3 separate regions of the Homo sapiens genome follow, and regions 2 and 3 are each linked to region 1. The links come from fine-mapping of genetic effects on gene expression. A gene starts in region 1. Each other region holds a variant in brackets. All regions are shown on one strand. Distances are from middle to middle.

The links.
Region 2: its variant is fine-mapped to the expression of B4GALT5 in whole blood (TOPMed, PIP above 0.99).
Region 3: its variant is fine-mapped to the expression of B4GALT5 in whole blood (TOPMed, PIP 0.90).

The regions. Positions count from the first base shown.
Region 1 is chr20:49,710,711-49,718,891 of GRCh38, forward strand. It overlaps B4GALT5 (beta-1,4-galactosyltransferase 5), which reads right to left and starts at 3,168. Exons shown (of 9, transcript NM_004776.4): 1 at 2,866-3,168. The coding sequence starts at 2,980. RefSeq lists silencers at 2,641-2,760, 3,051-3,380.
Region 2 is chr20:49,781,510-49,789,690 of GRCh38, forward strand. No RefSeq gene overlaps it. Among named protein-coding and RNA genes, the nearest start is that of SLC9A8, 27 kb to the right of the region's middle. RefSeq lists enhancers at 2,124-2,647, 4,174-4,413. The variant G/A (reference allele first, on the strand shown) is at 4,521.
Region 3 is chr20:49,622,364-49,630,544 of GRCh38, forward strand. LOC124904926 (a long non-coding RNA gene) reads right to left here. Exons shown (of 2, transcript XR_007067638.1): 2 at 7,421-8,181. Among named protein-coding and RNA genes, the nearest start is that of PTGIS, 58 kb to the left of the region's middle. RefSeq lists an enhancer at 4,860-4,929. The variant C/T (reference allele first, on the strand shown) is at 4,284.

The DNA of each region.
Region 1 (8,181 bases):
CCCAGCCAACCTAGTATTATTTTCTAAGCTCATTTTAATAACTATTCAAATAAGGTCTTCATAACCCAAGGAACACAAAACAACCTTCTATTTCTCCAGATTGCCTTAACCTTGAAAAAATTTGCCGCCCCACTGTCCAAAGCTAGACATTCTAAAAATTTAAGTTCAACAGAGCCTGTGCATCATAGTGAGATCCTGTCTCTACAAAAAACTGTTTTAAAAGTTAGCCAGGCAGGGTGGCATGTACCTGGAGTCCCAGCTACTCAGGAGGCTGAGGGAGGAGGATCCCTTGTGCCCAGGAGATCAAGGCTGCAGTAAGCTATGAGCATCACTGCACGACAGCCTGGGCAACAGAGACTCTCTATCAAAAAAAAAAAAAAAAAATTAGTAGGAAGGGCAAACAGCTAAATGTAACTACTCCACATCCTTTTTTTATTGTTCCCCTTTCTCACGAACAAAATTTCCATCCTAAGTAGAATTCCCCTTCAGAAGGCTTACATTCAAGGGGATACAGTACTAATGAAAATGTAAGTGCTCTGCCTCTTTTTCAGCTATCAGTGATATAGGATTCTAGGCATGGCAGTAGCACATCGCTTTACACAGGGGTTCCACTGACCTAAAAATCTACTGTTGAGGAATCTTAATTAAATTGATAAGTTCCATTTCTGTTGAAGAATCTGGCTTCTAACCTTTCTATCAAAAGGGTGATTACCATCCCAGTGGGATATAGTTTTCCATTTAGATATAGCTGATTTATGGACTCAGACCAGAAGTACCTGTCACTTTCACAAAAGGAGAAAAAAAGGATTATGGCTCTAAGACTGCCTCTAGGTCCAAATCCCATCTTTTCACACCCATTTTTATTAGAGTCTAATAGCCAACATGCTAATGAACTCTTTTCTCAGTTAATTCCACTAATTAGTTATCTCTTCTTGTTCTGCCAGAATCCCAACCCTTTTACAATCTACTCATCAAATCCATCAGGCCACATATTATGCCTTCCTAGAGGAACACTTTTCGTGATGACACTTTGTAAACAAGGCAATCTGATGCTGCCTGTTCTATCTTCCCAGATCTAGTTGATAGTTCAAAACATCAACATTAACCACAAGTAAAATATGCTTAAAAAATAATCAGGAGACGATCTCCTGCTCTATCTGGAAATTTCTCTATTCAGCTAGTTCTGCGTTGACAGGTCAACAGAGAATGGCACTAGTTATTGCTACAATCCTAAAAGGCATTTCCCTACAGCTAAACCATCAACCCTTTCCTAAAATCCATATAATCCAAAATTTTTCTAGCAGAATTTACTCTCCCTGCCCCTACCCCAGCAGCATCTTCTGATCATTTTTCACCATAAACTGAGGTTTCCTCATAGTGATGCCAAGTCAGGCAAACACATTCCTTAAGCGTTCCACCTAACTCCCTTCTTCCTGGAAGTTACATGTAATAGCTGCCTTTATTTACTTATTTTTAAAACTCTTCAAGCACCAGGTACAGTGGTAAGTGCTTTTAAAGAACATGTATCTACTTCCATCCTTAACACTGTATGAGATTGGGACTCACATTCCCATTTTACAGAGGAGAAATGCAAAGGCTTAGTAACCTGCCCAAGGTCATACAGGGCAGAGATTGGAATCCAAGTCTGACCTCTGTGTCCTCCGCTCTTAACCTTCATGCTGTCTTTCCTTCTGATCTCTTCCTGTCCTAACTGGTGCCCTGTGGTCTTATAAAAGACTATGCTTGGGGCAGGCGGGGGAGGGGTGGGAGGGTCAGTTTCTCCAGAGACCGCCTTTCCTTTAAAGGATAAGACTTTGAAAAGAAGGAGTACCCATTACATCTTTCCTCCATGCTCCCCCTTCTCACCTGGTACCATTTCCCAAAGGCCCCAATCATATCCCCTTCTCTACGGACAATTTAAACTTCTCCTTTGTCCGCAGAGCAGGCACTATCCAATACTGAAGAACCACACCATCTACCCTCAAGGCTAGGAGAGGGCAGAAGTGGAAGAAAGAACACAGACAGCACCCCTTCCCCAGGTCTTCAGTTGAGAAAGAAGCTGTGGCTGAAAGTCTGGGGGGCTGGGGGCAAAGGTGACAAGGATGTGCCCTTGTGGGTACGCGAGGTGGGGGGGGGGGAGATGGGGAAGAGGCATGGGACGCTCAGGGGATTAGCAGGAGATTGAATGGGGGTGGACCTCTGTAAGGGGAAGGGGGGTGCCACCGGCAGGCAGAGAGATCAGGCCACTGAAGAGGTGAACGTGAGTTAGGGAGGAGGACCTGGAGGTGGATGTAATAGGGGAAGTAGAGGAAGAAAGGGGAGGGAGGGGGCTCACGGGAGCAGGAAACGATGGAGTCATGGGGAGTGGGGGAGGATGGATGGGAGCTAGAAGGTGGGGCGGCCTGGGACCCGGGCACATGGGCTCGGCGAAGAGCGGGCGCGCCGCGGGGGACTGGGGTGCGGGGAATGCCGGGAATGGGGGTTCGAGGAGACCCCGGGGAAGGGAAGGGGAAGCGGGAGTTCTCGAGCAGAGGAGCGGGAAGTGGGAGTTCCAGCGAGGCAAGAGCGGGAAGGGGGTTCCGGAGCAAGGGGCGGGCGTGAAGGTACAGTCGGGTTCGCGAGGGTGGCGTTAGGAGGGGCGGGGTGGGCCGGAGGCTGGCGCGGGAGAGGGATCCCGGGCGCCTGTTGGGGTGCGGAGGGCAGGAATGTCCTGGCGTCCCCGAGAGCCGGGCCAGGACTCCGGAGTCTTCGGAGGACCAGGCTCAGGGCCGCCTCCCGGCCGGGGCCCCTTAGGGAGGGGCGGGGATTCCCCGGGTCCCTCAAGGCCAGAGCGGCAGCCGCCGCGGTCCCAAGCCCCCTTCCTACCTATGCCGGGCGCCACATAGACGAAGTACAGCAGCGAGGACGAGAGAGAAAAGAAGAAGAGCGCGGCGAGCAGCGAGCGGCGCGGCAGCCGCAGCAGCCCCCGGCGGGCGCGCATGCTGCAGCCAGGCGGCCGCTAGAGAGCCAGGCCGGGCCTGCTCCCGCAGCTCCCCGTCCGCCGCCTCCTGGGCCGCCGCCGCCACCGCCTGGGCCTCGGCCACCGCCTCCCGGGCCTCGCGGGCCGCCACTCGCCGCCGCCGCCGCCTCGCCGCTCCCAGCCGCCGGCCGTCGCGGGCCGGGCCACATGAAGCGGGCGGGGGCCAGAGCGGCCCCGAGCGGGCGCAGCGGCGGGGGCGGAGGCGGGGCGCACGCGCGGGAGGCGGGGCCAGTGCCGCCGGGCACCGTCGCAAAAGACCCGCGCGCTTGCGCTCGCCGCCGACCCTCGCTCGGCGCCCACAGCAGCCCGCATGGAGTAATCGCCAAATGGCGACAGACCCTCTCCCAGTGCGGCCACCGCCCAGGCTTTCGGGGAATGTCTCCCAAGTGCTCCGCGCTAGCTCGTCCCCCATCTCGGGGGCCAAGGGGCCATCTACAAAGTCTGACTCATCTCGTTGCCCACTGCAGCAGAAGAGTGGGGACTGCAAGGCTTGGGGGTTCGGCCTGGTATACACCCTCATTCATTCATTCATTCATTCATTCAATTCACCATTTATTTATTGAATGCCAGACACAGTTGTTGGCGCTGGGCATGCTACAGAGAAAAAAAACGATAAAAATCTCTGTCTACTTGAAACTTACATTATGTGAGAGATAAAAGAAACAAATCAGCTAGTAATATCAGGTACTGGTAACACATATGAATACGATAAAACAGGAGGATGTATTGCAGGCAGGCTGGAGTGGTCAAGGAAGGCCTCACTGAGCAGTGACACGAACTGAGATATAAAAGGGTGAGAAAGCGCCAGCTTTTTTGAATAAGCTGGGGAAAAAGCAGTCATACCAGGGGGAACAGCAGGTGTAAAGGCCCTGAGGTAGGAAAAGGGCTGATCTGCCCCCGAGTTGAATCCAAGGCCAACATGGATAAAATCCAGTGAAGTAGGGGGGGAAATAGGGATGAGCTTGGAGCTGTAGTCAGGGATCCTACTGTATCAGAAATAGCATAATGATAACAATTGTCAATGTCTCTAGACTTCTGCTGAGAAACATGGACTTCACTCATGCCATGAAATTCCCCCACCAGTCTTGAGATGTGTGCTGTTATTATTACTATCATACAAATGAGGAAACTGAGGTTTCTAGATGGAAAGGCAATTCACCCAAGCCTTGCAGTAAGGGCTTAAATCAAAACTGGCCTGTCTCCCATGTCAGGCCCTTGACCTCTAGGTTGTAACTGTCTCAGCAGTCTGTATGACCTCTAATTCTTATCCTGCAGGCAAATCGGTATCCTATCCCCATCACCTGGGTATGGGACCATATCCAAAAAAATGCTTTCAGATCAGCATCAGCTCAAAGGACCTCAGAAGGCAATGAACAGTCCTAGAAATTTATGGCAAGAAGCAGTAGCCTCAAGGAGCTGGACTGAGGAGGCCAGTGTCCCTGTGTAGACATATCTGAAACTAGGGTACTGTCTTGGAATGCCAGAAGCAGTGGGGAGGGGAGAGGACTTTGCAGGGATTCTGTGAGAATCAACAATAATTCTGATTTATATTCCTAAAGTGATTTCTACTTTTTACAGTGTTTCTTTGATCCTTTAAGTGGGGAGTCTAGAGCCACACTGCCCAGGTTCTCTGACTCCCAGCTTTTCCATTGTTAGCTGTGTGACCTCACGCAAGTTAAACTCTCTGTGCCTCGGTAAAATGGAGGAGGTTATTAGCAACCTCATCAGGTTGTTGCGAGGATTTAAGTAATACATGCAAAGTGCACATAGTAAGAGTGCTTAGCTGTCACCTAATTCAATACCCCTGGAGAATGGTATGGTGGAAGAGAAGAGGCTTAAACGATCAAAAAGGAAAGCAGAGAATTTTGACTCAGATAGATGTGAGTTCAAATCTCGGCTTGGCATCTCCTGGCTGTGTGACTCTGGGAAAGTCACTTACCTCTCTGAGCTTCTCTATTCATCACCTGTGAATCGGACCCAGTGCTGCCCACCCCACGGGGATGTGATGTGGATTCGATGAAATAGTGCAGGTAAGGCCCTGGACCAGAAATCCCAGACTAGCCGGAATCATCTAACTTGCAAATAGTTTTTGTTGGCCCACACAATGGCCCCTCCCAACCCTCGTATCTATGAAACATTTTCAAACATACAGAAAAGTTGAAAGAATAGTACAAGAAACATCTGTACACTCCCCACCTGGATTTGATCATTGTTATCATTTTTCCACATGTATGTATCTATATTCATATGTTGAAAATTTTTATTTTTTGCTAAATATTTAAAGGTAGGCTGGGCGATTACACCTGTAATCCCAGCACTTTGGGAGGCAAAGGCAGATGGATCGCTTGAGCTCAGGAGTTTGAGATCAGTCTGGCCAACATGGCAAAACTCCATTTCCACAAAAAATACAAAAGAATTAGCTGGGCGTGATGACGTGTGCCTATAGTCCCAGCTACTTGGGAGGCTGAGGTGGGAGGATCTCTTAAGCCCAGGAGGTGGAGGTTGCAGTGAGCCAAGATAGCGCCACTGCACTCCAGCCTGGGAGACAGAGTGAGACCCTGACTCAAAAAAACAATAAAAAAAAGTAAGTTGTTGCCTTACTAGTACTTCATGCCTTAATACTTCAGTAGCAAATCCTAAGGAAAATTACATTATCCTTCAAAACCACAGTAATACTAAGAGAATTAACAATTATACCATAACATTCTGTAACATCCAGTCTGTTCTGGATAGACAGAGAAAGAGAAACCTTCCTACATTTAAACTATGTACCAATGATCAGTCTCTATTTCTGACCTATCTGAAATAACAAGGCATCAAAATAAATTGGTTATGTTTTAGGCCGGGTACAGTGGCTCACGCCTGTAACCCCACCACTTTGGGAGGCCGAGGCAGGCAGATCACTTGAGGTGAAGAGTTTGAGACCAGCCTGGCCAACAACATGAAACCCCATCTCTACTAAAACATACAAAAATTAGCTGGGCGTGGTGGCACGTGCCTGTAATCCCAGCTACTCGGGAGGCTGAGGCAGGAGGATTGCTTGAACCTGGGAGGCAGAGGCAGAGGTTGCAGTGAGCCAAAATCGTGCCATTGCACTCCAGCCTGGACAACAGAGTGAGACTCCACCTCAAAAAAAAAATGCAAAATACAAAAATTAGCCAGGCACGGTGTCAGGCAGCCTGTAATCCCAGCTATTTGGGAGGCTGAGGCACAAGAATCGCTTGAACTCTGGAGGTGGAGGTTGCAATGAGCTGAGATCATACCACTGCACTCCAGCCTGGGCGACAGAGCAAGACTCCGTCTCAAAAATAAATAAATAAACTGGTTATGGTTTTTGTCTGTTTGTTTGTTTCAGTGGAGTTTCGCTCTTGTTGCCCAGGCTGCAGTGCAATGGCACATTGTCTGCTCACCGCAACCTTCGCCTTCCAGGTTCAAGAGATTCTCCTGCCTCAGCCTCCCAAGTAGCTGGGATTACAGGCATACGCCACCATGCCCGGCTAATTTTGCATTTTTAGTAGAGACAGGGTTTCACCATGTTGGTCAGACTGGTCTCGAACTCCTGACCTCAGGTAATCTGCCTGCCTCGACCTCCCAAAGTGCTGGGATTACAGGCATGAGCCACCGCCTCCGGCAGTTTATGTTTTTAAATGGAAGAAAAAGAAGTATGTCAGGAGTATCCAGGGATCCCTACCTCAAACTCCTTCCTCCACACTACTTTTTCATCTCCAAGTTAGGTTTCCAACTCACTAAAGCATGTATTCATTATATATTCATTTGACTATTCAGCTCCTCAGACAAACTCACTGTATTCTAATCTCTGCTCAAATGTTACCGTCTCAAAAAGACCTTTCCTCTAAAGTAGCTTTCTTCTCCCCATCCCAGCACTCTCTATCCATAGCCTTCCTCAGCTTGATTTTTCTCCATAGCACTTTTTATCCCCTGACATTCTACTATACATATACGCGTTTACTTGTTCATTTTCTTCTCCCAGATCAGAATGTAAACTTCACGAGAGCAGGGATTTGGTTTCACTCTCTGCTGTATCCTTGCACCTAGCACAGTGCTCAGCAGCCAGTAGGCGCTGAATAATTGTTGAAGGACGACAGGTGTGCAGTGACTGTGTGCTGGGCATGGCAGATGCAAAGATGACTAAGACATTCTTGCAGCCTAGTGACATATGAGCTACAGGAAAGTGACTAACTGAGGGACACTGTCATAAGGGCAGGACTCAGCATGGCTGGCAGTAGGAAAAGGTGTTCTGTGAGATTCTAGATGGTCTTTGAAGGGACATTGAGACAGGTTTGCTCAAGGGGCAGTGAGAAGAGGCCTGCCTGGTTGGAGCAGCTAGTCCTGCCAAGGAAAAGAAAGAGGTGAGGGGTGAGGCTGGAGGAGTGAGGCCTGACCCTGTGGCTCAGCATGGGCCCTGGAATTAGATGGATCTGGCTGCCAGTCTTCCTTCCTCCCTGCCCTCACTCTGTCATCTTGGCAAGTCACTTCACCTCTCGGAACCTCCATTTCCGCATCTGTAAAATGGAGATCAGACAGTTCCTTCTTTCTAGGATTGTGCACAGATTACAAATAGTATCTCTATAAAGGGCCTGATATGTAGGAAGTGCTCAATCCATGGGAGCCATCACTATTCTTAACTTTTTCCTCTGAGCCATAGAGAGCCCTTGAAGGTTTTAGCGCAGGGGAGTGGCCTAAAGAAAGGGAGGTCCTTGGTGAAATCTCAGGAGAGCACAGGTTGGGCCTCTTGTGCTTGTCAACACCCAATTGCAGGCTAGCTGAAATCACACACATAAAGAAAACAATCCGGCAGGGCATGGTGGCTCATGCCTGTAATCCCAGCACTTTGGAAGGCTGAGATGGGCAGGTCACCTGAGGTCAAGAGTTTGAGACCAGCCTGGCCAACATGGTGAAACCCCGTCTCTACTAAAAATACAAAAATTAGCCAGGTGTGGTGGTGGGCACCTGTAATCCCAGCTACTCGGGAGACTGAGACAGGAGAATCACTTGAACCCAGGAGGCGGAGGTTGTAGTGAGCTGAGATCGTGCCACTGGACTCCAGCCTGGGCAATAAAGAACAAAACTCCGTCTCAAGAAAAAAAATAAAAATAAAAAAAGCCGGTGCATCCTTCCCTCTACTTTTCCTTCTATCAAAT
Region 2 (8,181 bases), 71 kb after region 1:
ACAACATTCTCCTGCCTCAGCCTCCCGAGTAGCTGGGACTACAGGCGCCTGCCACCACACTCACCTAATTTTTTGTATTTTTAGTAGAGACGGGGTTTCACCGTGTTAGCCAGGATGGTCTCAATCTCCTGACCTCATGATCTGCCCTCCTCGGCCTCCCAAAGTGCTGGGATTACAGGCGTGAGCCACCGCGCCCAGCCTGTTATTTTTTCTTTAAACAGTGAAGAGGGTTTCAAGGAATCTCTCCTTAAAGGCAAAGACCCTGCCCAACTGAGTGTTGAGGCCTTTGTAGTGGACTGACCTGGGTTAATTTCTGGCTCTGGGTTCTGCCTTGGGCAAATCACTTTCTTTCTCTAAGCCTCAGTTTCCTCCTCCATGCAATGGGCAGAGTAGAGGGGAATAAATGAGAATCATCTCAAGTATTGACTGGCTCAGCACAGTGCCTAGAATCTGTGTCTAATAAGTGAACTTTTATTTTCCCTTTTTTTTACTTGTTTATTTGACTACATGAATACCTTCAAAAAGTACAGAGTGAAAGTAAAGAGTGAAAAATGGGTGGGTCTCCCTTCCTCCCTGTTCCTTTACCCACCCACTTCCCTTTCAGAGATATAATCAGGATTACAGGTTTCAAAACGGTTTTGAATTTATAGGACTATAACAAGAATAATTCAGAGAATTCCATATACCCTTTACCCAGAATCACCTGTCTTTACTATTTTGCCATGTTTGTTTTATTATCTTTTCTTTCTTCATGTGACTATGTTTATTATTATTATTTTTCTGAACTATTATAGTTTTCATACATCATGCCGCATTTACCTCTTAATATTTCCGCATATGTTTACTAGGAACACGATATTATTTGCTGTAACCACAGCACTGTTACCAAATTCAGAAAATTTACCTTGATGCCCCATTTACCTCATAATATTTCAGCATGTATTTCCTAAGAACAAGATATTATTTGCTATAGGCTGGGTGCAGTGGCTCACTCCTGTGATCCCAGCACTTTGGGAGGCTGAGGCGGGTGGATCACCTGAGGTCAGGAGTTTGAGACCAGCCTGACCAACATGGCGAAACCCTGTCTCTACTAAAAATACAAAACTAGCCGGGTGTGGTGGTGCACACCTGTAACCCCAGCTACTTGGGAGGCTGAGGCAAGAGAATCGCTTGAACTCAGGAGGTAGAGGTTGCAGTGAGCTGAGACTGCACCACTGCACTCCAGCCTGGGCAACAGAGTGAGACTCTGTCTCAAAAATAACATAAAAGAAAATAGATATTATTTTCTGTAATCACAGCAGTGTTACTAAAAAATTTACCTTGATTACCATCCATACGCCAATTTTGTCAGTTGTGGTAAAAAAAAAAAAAAAAAAAAAAAGAATCCCTTACAGCTTTTTCCCGCCTAGTGCAGGATCCACTTCAGGACCATGTTTTGTCTGTCTTTTTTATTTTTTTTTTCTTGAGACGGAGTCTTGCTCCGTCACCCAGGCTGGAGTGCAGTGGCACAATCCTGGCTCACTGCAACCTCCACCTCCTGGGTTCAAGCAATTCTCCTGTCGCAGCCTCCCGAGTAGCTAGGACTGCAGGCGCCTGCCACCACGCCCTGCTAATTTTTGTATTTTTAGTAGAGATGGGATTTCGCCTTGTTGATCAGGCTGGTCACAAACTCCTGACCTCAAGTGATCCACCCACCTCAGCCTCCCAAAGTGCTGGGATTACAGGCTTGAGTCACCGCGCCTGGCCTAATTGTCTCTCATCTGAAATGATGCCTCTGCTTTTCTTTGTCTTTTATGACCTTGACATTTTTTGAAGAATACAGGCCAGTTATTTCATAGAATGTTCCTCATTTGGGGTTTGTTTAACAGAGTACCCCAAATTTCTGTAGGATAGGAATTCAGGAAGGGCATAGTGGGGAAAAATTCTATCTGCTCTAAGGCTCACTCCTGTAATGCCAGCACTGAGGCCTCAGCTGGAAAACTCAAAGGCTAGAAGCGAGAGTTACCTGAAGTCTCACTGTCTGGCAGCTAATGCAGGCTGCTGGCTGGGGCTTGGCTGAGGCCCCACACACAGCCTCTCTACGTATCCTGAGCTTCTTTCCAACTATGGCAGCTGGGATGGAAGGGCAAGCATCCAAATGGAGAAAGCCATACTGTCTTTTTTATTTTTTATTTTTATTTTTTGAGACGGAGCCTCGCTCTATCGCCCAGGCTGGAGTGCAGTGGTGAGATCTCAGCTCACTGCAAACTCTGCCCTCAGGGTTCAAGTGATTCACGTGTCTCAGCCTCCCAAGTAGCTGGGATTACAGACGCCCGTCATCATGACCAGCTAATTTTTTTGGAGACAAGAGTTTTGCTCAGTCTCCCAGGCTGGAGTGCAGTGGCATCATCTCAGCTCACTGCAACCTCCACCTTCTGAGTTCAAGTGATTCTCCTGCCTTAGCCTCCCGAGTAGCTGGGATTACAGGTATGTGCCACCACGCCCAGCTAATTTTTGTATTATTACTAGAGATGGGGTTTCACCATGTTGGCCAGGCTGGTCTCGATCTCCTGATCTCAGGTGATCCACCTGCCTCAGCCTCCCAAAGTGCTGGGATTACAGGTGTGAGCCACCGCACCCAGCCACTAATTTTTATATTTTTAGTAGAAATGGGATTTTGACATGTTGGCCAGGCTGGGTTTGAACTCCTGACCTCAAGTGATCTGCCCATCTCGGCCTCCGAAGTGTTGGCATTACAGGCGTGAGCCGCCACACCTGGCCTGTCAATATTGTTTTAATGATGGTTGCTCCTTCTCAGGCTTTCCTCACATACTGTTTTTTTTTTTTTTAGACAGGTTCTGGTTCTGTCACCTAAGCCTCCTGAGTAGCTGACATTACAGGTGTGTGCCACGAGCTTGGCTAATTTATTTATTTATTATATTAAATATATATATATTTATATATAATATTAAATAATATATGTATATATATTTATATATAATATATATATTAAATAATGAAATATATTAAATAATAAATAAATAAATAATTTATTTATTGTTTTGTAGAGATGGGAGTCTCACTATATTGCCCAGGCTCATCTCAAACTCCTGGCCTCAAGCATTCCTTCCACCTCAGCCTCCCAAACGGCTAGGATTACAGGTGTGAGCCACCACACCCAGCCCTCCCTCATACATTCAAATGGCCAACTCCCTTGGCTTCCTCAAGTCTTTGCTTAAATGCCATCTTCTCAGGAAGTCATTTTCTGAACACTCTATTAAAAATTGCAACCTGCCCCCAAACACGTCTTGCACTCACTGTCCGTGTCTCTGCTTAAATTTTCTCCGTAGCACTCATACCATCTAACATACTGTGCATTTACTTGTTTATTTTTATTTTTTTGAGACAGGGTCTCACTCTGTTGCCCAGGCTGGAGTGCAGTAGTGTGATCATGGTTCATTGTAACCTCTGTCTCCTGGACTCAAGCAATCCTCTCACCTTAGCCTCCCAAGTAGCTGGTACCACAAGTGCACATCATCACACCTGGCTAATTTTTGTATTTTTTGTACAGAAGGGGTTTCGCCATGCTGACCAGGCTCATCTCAAACTCCTGGGTTCCAGCGATCCACCCGCCTCAGCCTCCCAAAGTGCTGGGATTATAAGTGAACCATCATGCTGGGCAATTTATTTATTTATTTTCCGTTTCCCTCTACTAATGAATCAGCTCCAGGAGTGCAGGGACCTTGTCTGTTTTCTACACAGATGCGTTCCCAGCACCTAGCACAGTGCCTAGCAGGTATGTGAATGAATGAATGAATGAATCCATGCATGCATGAATGAAGTATCCTTGTACAAACCATGAACCATGTACATGTTAGGTGTCTACAACTTGTCGTTTGAATTAATGAATAAAAGAACAGGCAAGGCGCGGTGGCTCACACCTGCAATCCCAGCACTTTGGGAGGCCGAGGTGGGCGGATCATCTGAGGTTGGGAGTTCAAGACCAGCCTGACTAACATGGAGGAACCCTGTCTCTACTGAAAATAGAAAATTATCCAGGCGTGGTGGCGCATGCCTGTAATCCCAGCTTGGGAAGCTGAGACAGGAGAATCGCTTGAACTCGGGAGGCAGATGTTGCGGTGAGCCAAGATCGTGCCATTGCGCTCCAGCCTGGGCAACAAGAGTGAAACTCTGTCTCAAAAAAAAAAAAAAGAAAGAACAGACAGCACCAACCCTCCTTGTAAGTTCAATATGAGGTTGATCTGAAGCTGCCACCCAAGGCTACTGATCAAAATATCCTTCTAAACAAGTCTGTCCCACAGTCCTGGCGTCTGATAATATGGACAGTCAGGCTGGCTGGCACCAGACTGGACCCAGATGAAGGAATGGAATCAGGCCACATTACAGGGGCAAGAGGAGCCTTGTGGCCAGAGGTTCTAGAGGTCAGCAGCAAGTCATGCATCTGAAGAGGAAGTTGATTGCTGTACCTCAAGCTGAAACAGAAACTGCGGTGGCTAGCAAGGAAGGGTCCCCACCTGTGC[G/A]CCTCAGCCCCTTGGCCATTGCCAGCTTCCAACAGACCACAGAGACTTTTGGGGGAAAACTTTTTTATTGAAGTGTAACAGACATACAGAAAAGTGCACAAATAAGGAAAGTGCACAGGGGAGCGATGGCTCGATACATTTTCACAAAGGCAGACAGCGGGGTAACCAGCCCCCAGCTCAAGGAACAGAACATTCCCCGCCCCGGAGAAGCTCCCTTCAAGTCTTTCCCATCCTAAGCGATAACCGTTATCCTGATTCCAACAGCAGTGATGATTTTTGCCGTTTTTTGAACTTGATGAAATGGCAGCACATAACACGTATTCTTTTGTGTAAGACTTACTTACTACAAACTTTGTATGTTTGTAGCAACAGCCTTTTGACCCTGTCTCTTCCTCCATGCCCTCAAAGAGAAAAAGGAACCTAATAATAACACAAAATAAAGCGAAAGCATACTTGCTTGACTGGTTTAAATGTGCCATCTGGCCGGGCATTTTGGAGGCCGAGGCGGGTGGATCACTTGAAGTCAGGATTTCGAGACTAGCCTGGCCAACATGGTGAAACCCCATCTCTACTAAAAGTACAAAAATTAGCTGGGCATGGTGGTGGGCACTTGTAATCCCAGCTACTTGGGAGGCTGAGGAAGGAGAATCGCTTGAACCTGGGAGGCAGGGGTTGCAGTGAGCAGAGATCGTGCCACTGCACTCCAGCCTGGATGACAGAGGGTGACTCCATCTCTCAAAAAATAAAATAAAATAAAATAAAATAAAATAAAATATAAAATAAAATGTGCCATCCATTCTTTCATGCTTCAGCCACCCAGTGGGCTGGAACTGTTACTGCTTCCATTTCAAATATTGGGAGGCTGAGGCACAGAGAGGTTAAATAATTTGCTCAGCCAGGAAGTGAAGGTCTGTATTTAAAGCCAGGTCTCTCTGATCTCCAAGCTCATGTTCTAACCCAGCATACACTCCTTATCAATAAAATGACCATGTATTGAACACCCTCTTTGGACTGAATACTATACTTCAACTTTATGTCCATTGTCTTATTTGATTTTCCCAGCCGTTGATGAGTAATATACCATTATCCTTGCTTAGCAAATGATGAAAGCAGGGTTCAGAGAGGTTAAGGAACTTTCCTAACGTCATACAGCCCAGGAAGGCATGAAATAAAAATTTAAACTCTATTTTGTTGATTCCAAAGTCCAGTGCAGAACGATATCAGTACCCAGCATTTATGCGCATCTTTCAAATATACCTTCTGAGGCCCTGCAGGGTGGCTCATGACTGTAATCCCAGCACTGTGGGAGGCCGAGGTGGGTGGATCAGTTGAGGTCAGGAGTTCAAGACTAGCCTGGCCAATATGGTGAAACCCCGTTTCTATTAAAACTACAAAAATTAGCCGGGTGTGGTGGCACACGCCTGTAATCCCAGTTACTTGGGAGGCTGAAACAGGAGAATTGCTTAAACCCCGGAGGCAGAGGTTGCAGTGAGCCGAGATTGCACCACTGTACTCCAGCCTGGGTGACAGAGCAAGATTCTGTCTCAACAGAAACAAACAAACAAAAACAAATATACCTTCTGAGTTTTTCAAAAAAGAGACAACAATAGCAGTTACCTTTTATGGATCATCTCAGAGTCAGTTGTTTTGGTCAAAGATTGCAAATGATCCCTTAATTTGTGTTCTTGTCTTCTCTCTCCTAGTAAGAGTATACCTGATTTTTAGCTTGGCACATGGCTTCCCATGGCTTTACTACCTATCTCAGCCTTCCTTGCAGCTAGGGGTAGCCACATGACTAACTTATAGCCAGTGAAGAACTGTTCCCCGACATGCCCACATGGCTCATGTCAACCCCAGCATTACATCATTTGTTTAAACTCTCAGTTTCTCTGTCTTGAAAATAGGGATTTAAATATTTATTTAAGCCAGGTGTGGCTGAGGTGAGAGGATCACTTGAGGCCAGGAGTTCGAGACCAGCCTGGGCCACACAATGAGACCCCTGCCTTTACAAAACAATTTTTTAAAAAAATTAGCTGGGCATGGTGGCGTGTGCCTGTAGCCCCAGCTACTCAGGAGGCTGAGGTGGGAGGATTACTTAAGCCTGAGAGGTTGAGGCTGCAGTGAGCCTTGATTGCGCCATTGTGCTGCAGCCTGGATGACAGAGCAAGACCCCATCTCAACATATGTGTATACATCTATCTATCTATCTATCTATCTATCTATCTATCTATCTATAGCTATATCTGTCTCATCTCTCTCTCTCTCTGTCTATATATATATATATATATATATATATAAATAAATATGTTCTTTTTTTTTTAATTTAACAAAAGCAGGAAGTAGACAGACACAGTGGGTGGTTCATGCCAGTAATCCCAGCACTTTGGGAGGCCAAGGCGGGAGGATTGATTGAAGCCAGGAGTTTGAGACCAGCCTGGGCAATATAGTGAGACCCCTAACTCTACAGAAAGTTTAAAAAAAAAAATCAGCTGGGTGTGGTGGTATATGCCTGTAGTCCCAGCTTCTTCACATCACTGCACTCCAGCCTGGGCAATAGAGCATAACCCTGTCTCTTAAAAACAAAAAACAGGAATATATGTAGTAGAGTCACCTTGAGTGTGGATTGGGAGAAGAAGCTAGGACAGGAAGGACACTAATGTGTTTGTGTTGGGTAAACAAACCCTGTTTATTGGGAGACCACCTGCTCCAGAAGAAAAGACACCAGGTGAAGACAGGAAGCTGGGTGCTGCTAACTGAATGAGCTGGGACAAGGCCCTTCCCTTACCTAGGGATAGATAATAAAAAATATTTTATTGTATATTTTTAAGGTAGTAGTTCCTTGTCTGCAGAGTGGGGATTTAGATTACATCTATCCTTTTGGTTTTGTCTACTCACTATGAATTCCCCTATCATAACAGCATCCTAATTTCTCTGGGAGCCCCCTTCTTTACTCCCTGTCCATGTGAAAGGCATGCAGCACTAACTTTATCCTTGGTTCCAGGAAGGCCAATGCTCCATGCTGGCCAATCAGCACCCCTCATTTCTCTGCCCATAGGGATTGGCTCAGAAATGGGCACCTGCCCCAAGTGGACCAGTGAGTTATCCCTCAGGTTTTTGCTGGGATTGTTTTGCTTCTGCTGCGCTAGGCTGGTATGAAGAGGGTCTGAAGCTCAAAGGTAGCCACCATTGTGAGAGTGAAAGACTGAGCCCTGATAACTTATGAACCCCTGAATCCAGCTGTACCTGAAGGCAGCCACATATTCCTGAACATGTTATTCTCCATGAGTCAATATGGTTCCTCTTTGTTGTTTTTTTGTTTTTTGTTTTTGAAATGGAGTCTCGCTGTCACCCAGGCTAGAGTGCAGTGGCACCATCTCAGCTCACTGCAACCTCCACCTCCCGGGTTCAAGCAATTCTCCTGCTTCAGCCTCCTGAGTAGCTGGGACTATGGGCACGTATCACCACGCCCAGCTAACTTTTTTGAATTTTTAGTAGAAACAGGATTTTGTCATGTTGGCCGGGCTGGTCTTGAACTCCTGACCTCAAGTGATCCACCTGTCTTGGTCTCCCAAAGTGCTGGGATTACAGGCATGAGCCACCGCGCCCATCCTCAATATGGTTCCTCTTTGGACTTAAGTCACTGTAGCAGATGACGTGGCTT
Region 3 (8,181 bases), 88 kb before region 1:
ATACATTTTCCTCTGTAGGCAGCATTAGCTATGTCTCACACACTTTGGTATGAACAGTGTCTGCTTTTTAAGACTCTAGATAAGTTTCCATGTTGGTTCTGATTTTCCTCTGATTCAGGGGCCATTTAGAAATAATAGCTATTTTTCAAGAAGTTAAAATTTTGAGGTTGCTTTTGATAATTTATTCTGAATTTTATTGGATTATGAAATGAGAATGTGGCTTGGAAACATCTCTACTTTGCAACTTCACTTTGCCATTTACAAACTCTCACTAGACCAGAGTTTCCTTGCTGAGCATGTTTCCTCATCTGTAAAGCGAGCACAATAAACAGTGGCTACAGATTTATGCCAGGTGTGGTGGCTCATGCCTGTAATCCCAGCACTTTGGGAGGCCAAGGCAGGTGGATCACTTGAGATCAGGATTTCGAGACCAGCTTGGCCAACGTGGTGAAACCTCATCTCTAGTAAAAATGCAAAAATTAGCCAGGCATGGTGGTGCACACCTGTAATCCCAGCTACTCAGGAGGCTGAAGCAGGAGACTCACTTGAACCTGGGAGGCAGAGGTTGCAGTGAGGTGAGATAGCACCATTGTACTCCAGCCTGGGCAACAGAGCGAGACTCCGTCTCAAAAAGGAAAAAAAAAAAAGAGTTTCTATGGCCACCTGGGATAGGAGGCTTTTCTTGAAGCCACTTTACCCTAATAAACCCATTGTCTTTACTTATGTTGTATTTATATCTGCAGCGGCCTTGATGCTGTCACTGACCACTGGGACACCCCAGGCCTGACAGGCAGCTCCTGACACCAACTCAAATGCTAGTTCCGCCGGGTGCAGTGGCTCACGCCTGTAATCCCAGCACTTTGGGAGGCCAAGGCAGGCAGATCACCTGCGGTCAGGAGTTCAAAACCCCATCTCTACTAAAAGTACAAAAATCAGCCAGGTGTGGTGGTGTGCACCTTTAATCCCAGCTATTCGGAAGGCTGAGGCAGGAGAATCACTTGAATCTGGGAGGCAGAGGTGGCAGTGAGCCAAGATTGCACCACTGCACTCCAGCCTGGATGACAGAGCAAGACTTCATCTCAAAAAAAAAAAAAATTATTTTGCTGAGAGAAATCTGGACTATACATTCCAGCTGTGACCAACTTATGACACTGCAGCTATATTTTTATTAGTCAGTGGATCTAAAACCAAAAAGTGTGAAAAAAGAAAAATTTCTCAATGATAGGCAAACAAATCTTAATATGTGGTTTATTACTTTGTATTTGGTTCCACTGATTATTCTGTCAACAGGAATGTTAGTGGCCTTGCCACCAGCAAGGTTGGCAATCTTGGCTCCCAGTTACTTCTCTTGTAGGTCGGTCTTAAGAACAAGGCTTTGGCCAGGCGCAGTGGCTCACGCCTGTAATCCCAGCACTTCGAGAGGTCGAGGTGGGTGAATCATGTGGTCAGAAGTTCGAGACCAGCCTAGCCAACATGGTGAAACCCTGTCTCTACTAAAAAAAAAATACAAAAATTAGCCAGGCATGGTGGTGCGCGCTTGTAATCCCAGCTACTCAGGAGGCTGAGGCAGGAGAATCGCTTGAACCTGGAAGGTGGAGGTTGCAGTGAGCCGAGATCGCGCCATTGCACTCCAGTCCGGGTGACAGAGCGAGACTCTGTCTCAAAAAAAAAAAAAAAAAAAAAAAAAGAAAAAGAAAAGAAAGAAAGAAAAAGGCGTTAAGGCTTTAGGATTGGATGTGGTGGCTCATGCCTGTAATCTCAGCACTTTGGGAGACTGAGGCAAGGGGCTCACTTGAGGTCAGGAGTTCAAGACCAGCCTGGGCAACATAGGGAGACCTCGTCTCTACAAATAACTTAAAAATTAGCCAGGTGTGATGGCGCATGCCTGTAGTCCCAGCTACTCGGGAGGCTGAAGTAGGAGGATCACTTGAGACCAGGAAATTGAGCCTGCAGTGAGCCGAGATCGCGACACTGTACTCCAGCCTGGGCAACAGAGCAAGAGTTTGTCTCATTAAAAACAAAACAAAACAAACAAACAAAAAAAAACAGACAACAAAAATAGCAAGAGTACTTTAGATTTATAGACGGTGCTTTGCAGTGAAGCTGCCATGATGAAAGCTTCCATTGACCGACCACCTGTCGTGTGTGAAGCATTGTTCTTGGTAACTCACATATGTTGCTGCATTTCCTCTTCACAATAACTTCATGTGGAAAGTTTTACCACCTCCCTTCTCCAAATGAGAAAACAGTATAAGAGAAATGTGACTTTACCAAGAGCACCCAGCTTCTGAGTGGGTTCAGCCTGGGGGTGTCTGGCTCTTCCTACATCTGGAATCTTCAGATTGAGAAGGTTCATTGTCATTTACTCAGCAAATATTTGAGCATCTGCCCCTTGCCTTCTGTCCTGCAGTATGCCGAATTCTGGACTAGGTGCTGGAGATGGAACAGGGAGCAAAACAGCGTCCTTTGTCCCCTGTCCCAGTTGGGAAGAAAGACAAAGAAAAGACAAACAAAACAAAACAAGACGAAAACAGCACTTCACAGTATATATGATGTTAGAGAGGGACGGGGCAGCTAAGATTCTCAACAGTTCATTTCAGTACTAAACTGTTTTACTTCTATTCTGTTTCTTTTCTTTTTTCTTTTTTTCTTTTTTTGAGATGGAGTCTCACTCTGTTGCTCAGGATGGAGTGCAGTGTCGCGATCTCAGCTCACTGCAACCTCCACCTCTCGGGTTCAAGCGATTCTCCTGCCTCAGCCTCCTGAGTAGCTGGGGTTAGAGGTGCCCGCCACCACACCTAGCTAATTTTTGTGTTTTTAGTAAAGACGGGATTTCACCATGTTGGCCAGGCTGGTCTCGACCTCCCAACCTCAGGTGATCCTCTGCCTCAGTCTCCCAAAGTGCTGGGATTACGTGCATGACCCTCTGCACCCAGACTCTATTCTATTTCTGTCATCAGGCGGATTGACAGACACAAAAATGTAGTGTCTCTATTGCCCTAGATCTCTTTAGCCATGTCCGAGGACCAAGGAATGTAAAATTTATTTGTTTTTGAGACAGGGTGTCACTCTGTTGCCTAGGCTAGAGTGCAGTGGTGGATCCTCCCACCTCAGCCTCCCGAATAGTTGGAAGTACAAACGTAACACCATCATGCCCAGCTAATTTTATATATATATATTTGTAGAGACAGGGCCTTGCCATGTTGCCCAAGTTGGTCTTGAACTCCTGGCTTCAAGCGATCCTCCCACCTCGGAATCTCAAAGTGCTGGGATTACAGGCGTGAGCCACCGTGCCGCCCAGCCCAGGGTTCTGTTGTAATGAGCGCGTCCTTCTTGTGGTGTGTCCTTTCTTCACTTGCAGTCTTCACTCACAGCCCTGCCATTTCTTGTTCCTGTGTAATCTGTCACTTTGTGGCACTTCCTTTTCCTCTGTGTTGACAGAGCCTGGCTTGTTTAGCCACTCTTGTGTCCTCAGGGGGTTTGATTTCCTTCCATGTTATTGCTATTATGTGTTACATAGCGATGAACTAGCCAGGACACATTGTTATTTTTCCCCTGGTTTGCCTCCCTGTTCGTAATCCTCCGTCACCGTTCACATTTCTATTGATTTTCAGCCAAACTCGGGGGTTGGCAAATTACGGCCACCCACCTGTTTTTGTAAATAAAGTTTTATTGGAATGCAGCCAAGCCTGTTTGTTTACATATTGTCTGGGGCTGCTTGAGCTATGAGGGCAGAATTGAGAAGTTGAATAGCTGAGTGACAGAGACTGCATACAGCCCCTGTGACGGTGGAAAAAACAACTGTTTTTCCTCTGCTCTCACACTACAGCAATCAACACTAAAGACTTTTTTTTTGAGACATAGTCTCACTCTATCACCCAGGCTGGAGTGCAGTGGCACAATCTCAGCTCACTGCAACCTCCGCCTCCGGGTTCAAGTGATTCTCCCACCTCAGCCGCCAGAGTAGCTGGGATTACAGGCACCCACCACCACGCCTGGCTAATTTTTGTATTTTCAGTCAATATGGGTTTTCACCATGTTGGCCAGGCTGGTCTCGAACTCCTGATCTCAGGTGATCTGCCCACCTCAGCCTCCCAAAGTGCTGGGATTATAGGTGTGAGCCAGTGCACCTGGCCACAGAACATCTCCATGACCAAATGTGTGTCTGTTTTTCCCCAAGCACCAAGCAGTGGACACCAGCGGGGCATCCCCCAATTCCACTCCGATGCTGTCTACCTGAAGATAGCCTCGGGTCACACAGGTTGAGGGCTCAGTCCCCAAGA[C/T]TGTCCCCTCCTTCCCACCAGTCACAAGTCCAGGCTTCCAGAACTTCTGACCGATCAGCTCCAAACCCGCTCTTTGGGTTTAATTTATTTGCTAAAGCAGCTCACAGAACTCAGGCAAACTTACTTTTACGTCTACTGGTTTATGACAAAGGTTCTTTTAAAGGACGCAGTTAAACAGCCAGATGAGACACACACAGTGAGGTCTGGAAGGGTCCTGAGCCTGTCCCCATGCCACCCTCCCAGCACGTGGATGAGTTCTTGTTCACCTTCTTACAAACCTCCGTGTGTTCAGCTATCTGGAAGCTCTCTGAGCCCTGTCCTCTTGGCTTTTTTTTTTTTTTTTTTTTTTGAGACAGGGTCTTGCTCTGTCACCCAGGCTGGAGTGCAGTGGTGCGATCTCGGCTCACTGCAACCTCTGCCTCAAGGGTTCAAGCGATTCTCCTGCCTCAGCCTCCTGAGTGAGCTGAGATTACAGGCATGTGCCACCACGTACAGCTAATGTTTGTATTTTTAGTAGAGAAGGGGTTTCCCCATGTTGGTCAGGCTGGTCTCGAACTCCTGACCTCAAATGATCCACCTGCTTCAGCCTCCCAAAGTGCTGTCTCTCCATCTGACTGCAAGGAAATGAAGTTGCAGGGAAGTGAAGTGACTTCCCCAGGCCATGGAGTTGTTGGCTGTAGAAGTGCAACCAGCAGATCATCTCTCCTGGGCCCTGCTCTTCCTAGAATTCACAGTGGAAGATGTATACCCTACTCCCACCTATTCCTTACCTCCGAGCCTCCCTACACAGCAGAGACCTCTCTCCTACATGACTGCCACCCACCATTGTCCTAGAAATAAGTCAAACAGTGGCATTTGTCAGTCCCACATCTAGTCGTAGCAGGGTGCTGTGTGGGGCGGGCGTGGTGGCAGAGAAAAGGTGTGTCTTGGAGCAGTGAGAAAAGTACTCAGGGCTGTGCTTCCTCAAGGAGTCTCATGGCATGTAGCCTGCCTGGAAAGTTTTCTGCCAGCATCTAGCAGGTTGCATTTCACAAGCGGCATAAATCCTCCTTAACCGTTTGCCCTTACAGCTAGTTTGCATGTGATGGTAAATCTGAATTGTTACTCAGTGACTGTATTTATTAAGAACAGCCCACCTGCAAGGTACTGTGGCATCGAGGGTACCAGGTTAGGAGGAAACTAGCATTTTTTTTTTTTTAGACAGAGTCTCGCTCTCGTTGCCCAGGCTGGAGTGCAATGGCACTATCTCAGCTCACTGCAACCTCCACCTCCCGGGTTCAAGTGATTCTCCTGCCTCAGCCTCCCAAGTAGCTGGGATTGCAGGCGCCTGCCGCCATGCCTGGCTATTTTTTTGTGTATTTTTAGTAGAGACGGGGTTTCTCCATGTTGGCCAGGCTGGTCTCAAACTCCTGACCTCAGGTGATCCGCCCAAAGTGCTGGGATTACAGGCGTGAGCCACAGCGCCTGACCTCAGCAAAAGAATTTGGTAAGTCTAGAGGTAAAGCTTAATACTGTAAAGATGCTAAAGATGCTGTCTTCCCAGATCATTAATTTAGTGCAATGTCAGTCATGATCCTAGATTTTAAAAAGCAATTTTTTAAAATATAGAGACAGGGTCTCTTTGTTGCCCAGGCTGGTCTCAAACTCCTGGCTTCAAGTGATCCTCCTGCCTTGGCCTCCAAAGTACTGGGATTACAGGCATGAGCCACCATGCCTGGCCCTTAAATAGATTTTTAAATATAACTTGACAAAATAAATCTCACCGGATTGAGAAAATACATAAACATAGCCAAGAAAAACAATTTTTTTGAGTCAGAGTCTCATTCTGTGTCACCCAGGCTGGAGTGCAATGGTGCAATCATGGCTCACTGTAGCCTCACTCTCCTGGGCTCAAGTGATCCTCCAGCCTCAGCCTCGTCGGTAGCTGGGACTACAGGCACACACCACTGCACCTGGCTAATTTTTTCTTAAATTTTTGTAGAGACAGGGTTTCACTATGTTGCCCAGGCTGGTCTTGAACTCCTGGCCTCAAGTGACCCTCCTGCCTATGCCTGGCTGAAAATTTTGATGAGAATGGGGTTGTGTAAGTATGTTCACCCTGACAAAAGAGCTGTTTGCTTTGGATTTATGGACTTTTCTGTATGTATATTACACTTCTATAAATGTTTACAAAATTTGGGGTAGGATATAGAAAGTAGAGATAAACTTGTCTTATAAAAACATACTACAGGGCTATCATAATTAAAACTGTAAGGCATAATAAGACAAATAGCTCAATGAAATGGAAGAATCTTGCTACAGAATTTAATGTGTAAGACATGGGGAAATTATTGATTGTTCAATAAATACTGTTGAGACAATTAGCAATCCATTTGGAAAAAATAAATTATAGACCGCCCCTCCTGACCATATCATACACAAAATCCCCTTTAATTCCAGGGGTTAAAGATATAAATAGCATGATCATTCACTGATGGTAGAAGGATTAATTCATACTGCCTTTTTGTAGGACAACTTGGTAGGCTCCTTCAACATTTAAAATGTGCAGGTGGGGCGTGATGGCTGACGCCTGTAATCCCAACACTTTGGGAGGACAAGGCGGGTGGATCACTTGATCCCAGGAATTTGAGACCAGTGTGGGTAACATAGTAAGACCCTGTCTCTACAAAAAATACACTAATTAGCCAGGTGTGGTGTGTGTGCCTGTGGTCTCAGCTACTCAGGAAGCTGAGTTGGGAAGATAGCTTGAGCCCGGGAGGTTGAGGCTGCAGTGACCCATGATCGCACCACTGCACTCCAGCCTGGGGTGACGGAGTGAGACCTTATATCATAAACAAATAAATATATGTATGTATTTGTGTGTGCATGTGTGCATATATATGTGTGTGTGTGTGTGTGTGGGTGTGGGTGTGTATCCCTTGCTCCAACAATTTCATTTCTTGACTCTCTCAAGTTGGCCTACACATATATGTGCACATGGATTGATGTGCATCTGTGTTCACTGTGGTGCATATAATGTGATAGTGGAAAACTGGAAACTACCTCCATGTCCATTAGGAGGGGAATGGCTAAATTACATACATCCACACAAGAGATTACCATGTGTCACAATTCAAATAATAAGATAGGTTCAGTCATTCATGCAACAAATATTTATTGAGCAACTACTATGTGCTAAGACCAGTTCTTAGCTCTGGGGATAGAGCAGAAAACAAAACAGTCTCTGCCTTCATGGGGATTATATTTTAGTGGGGTTGACAGCCAATGAACAAAGAACAATAAAAATATAGTACGATTCAGAGTGAGAATATTGTGAATCAATAAAACAGGGTAAGGGGGGACAGGGACAGGGAGGTGGCATTTCAGACTGGGTGCTCATCAAATCTTCTCCAAGGAGGTAACATCTGGGCTTTATTTGAGGGAGCTCTTCATTCACGGAAAAGAGGTCTCCAGAAACATTAAGAAAAAACAAAACAAAACAAAAGTAATTACAGGACAACTTATGGTTTTTAAACTATGCCTTTGTTTTCCTAAGCATGCATATAGGTATACAGGTATAGATCTGGACATCAGCCAATGGCTGGACATGGTGGCTCACACCTGGAATCCCAGCACTTTGGGAGGCCAAGGCAAAAGGACGGCTGGAGCCCAGGAGTTCGAGACCAATCTGGACAACATGGTGAAACCCCATCTCTACAAGAAATACAAAAATTATAAAAATTAGCTGAGCGTGGTGGTGTGGGCTTGTAGTCCCAGCTACTTAGGAGGCTGAGGCGGGAGGATCACTTGAGCCCAGGAGGTTGAGGCTGTGGTGAGCTACAATCGTGCCACTGTACTCCAGCCTGGGTGACAGAGACTCCGTCTCAAAAAAACTAAAAAATGTAGACATCAGTCAAAC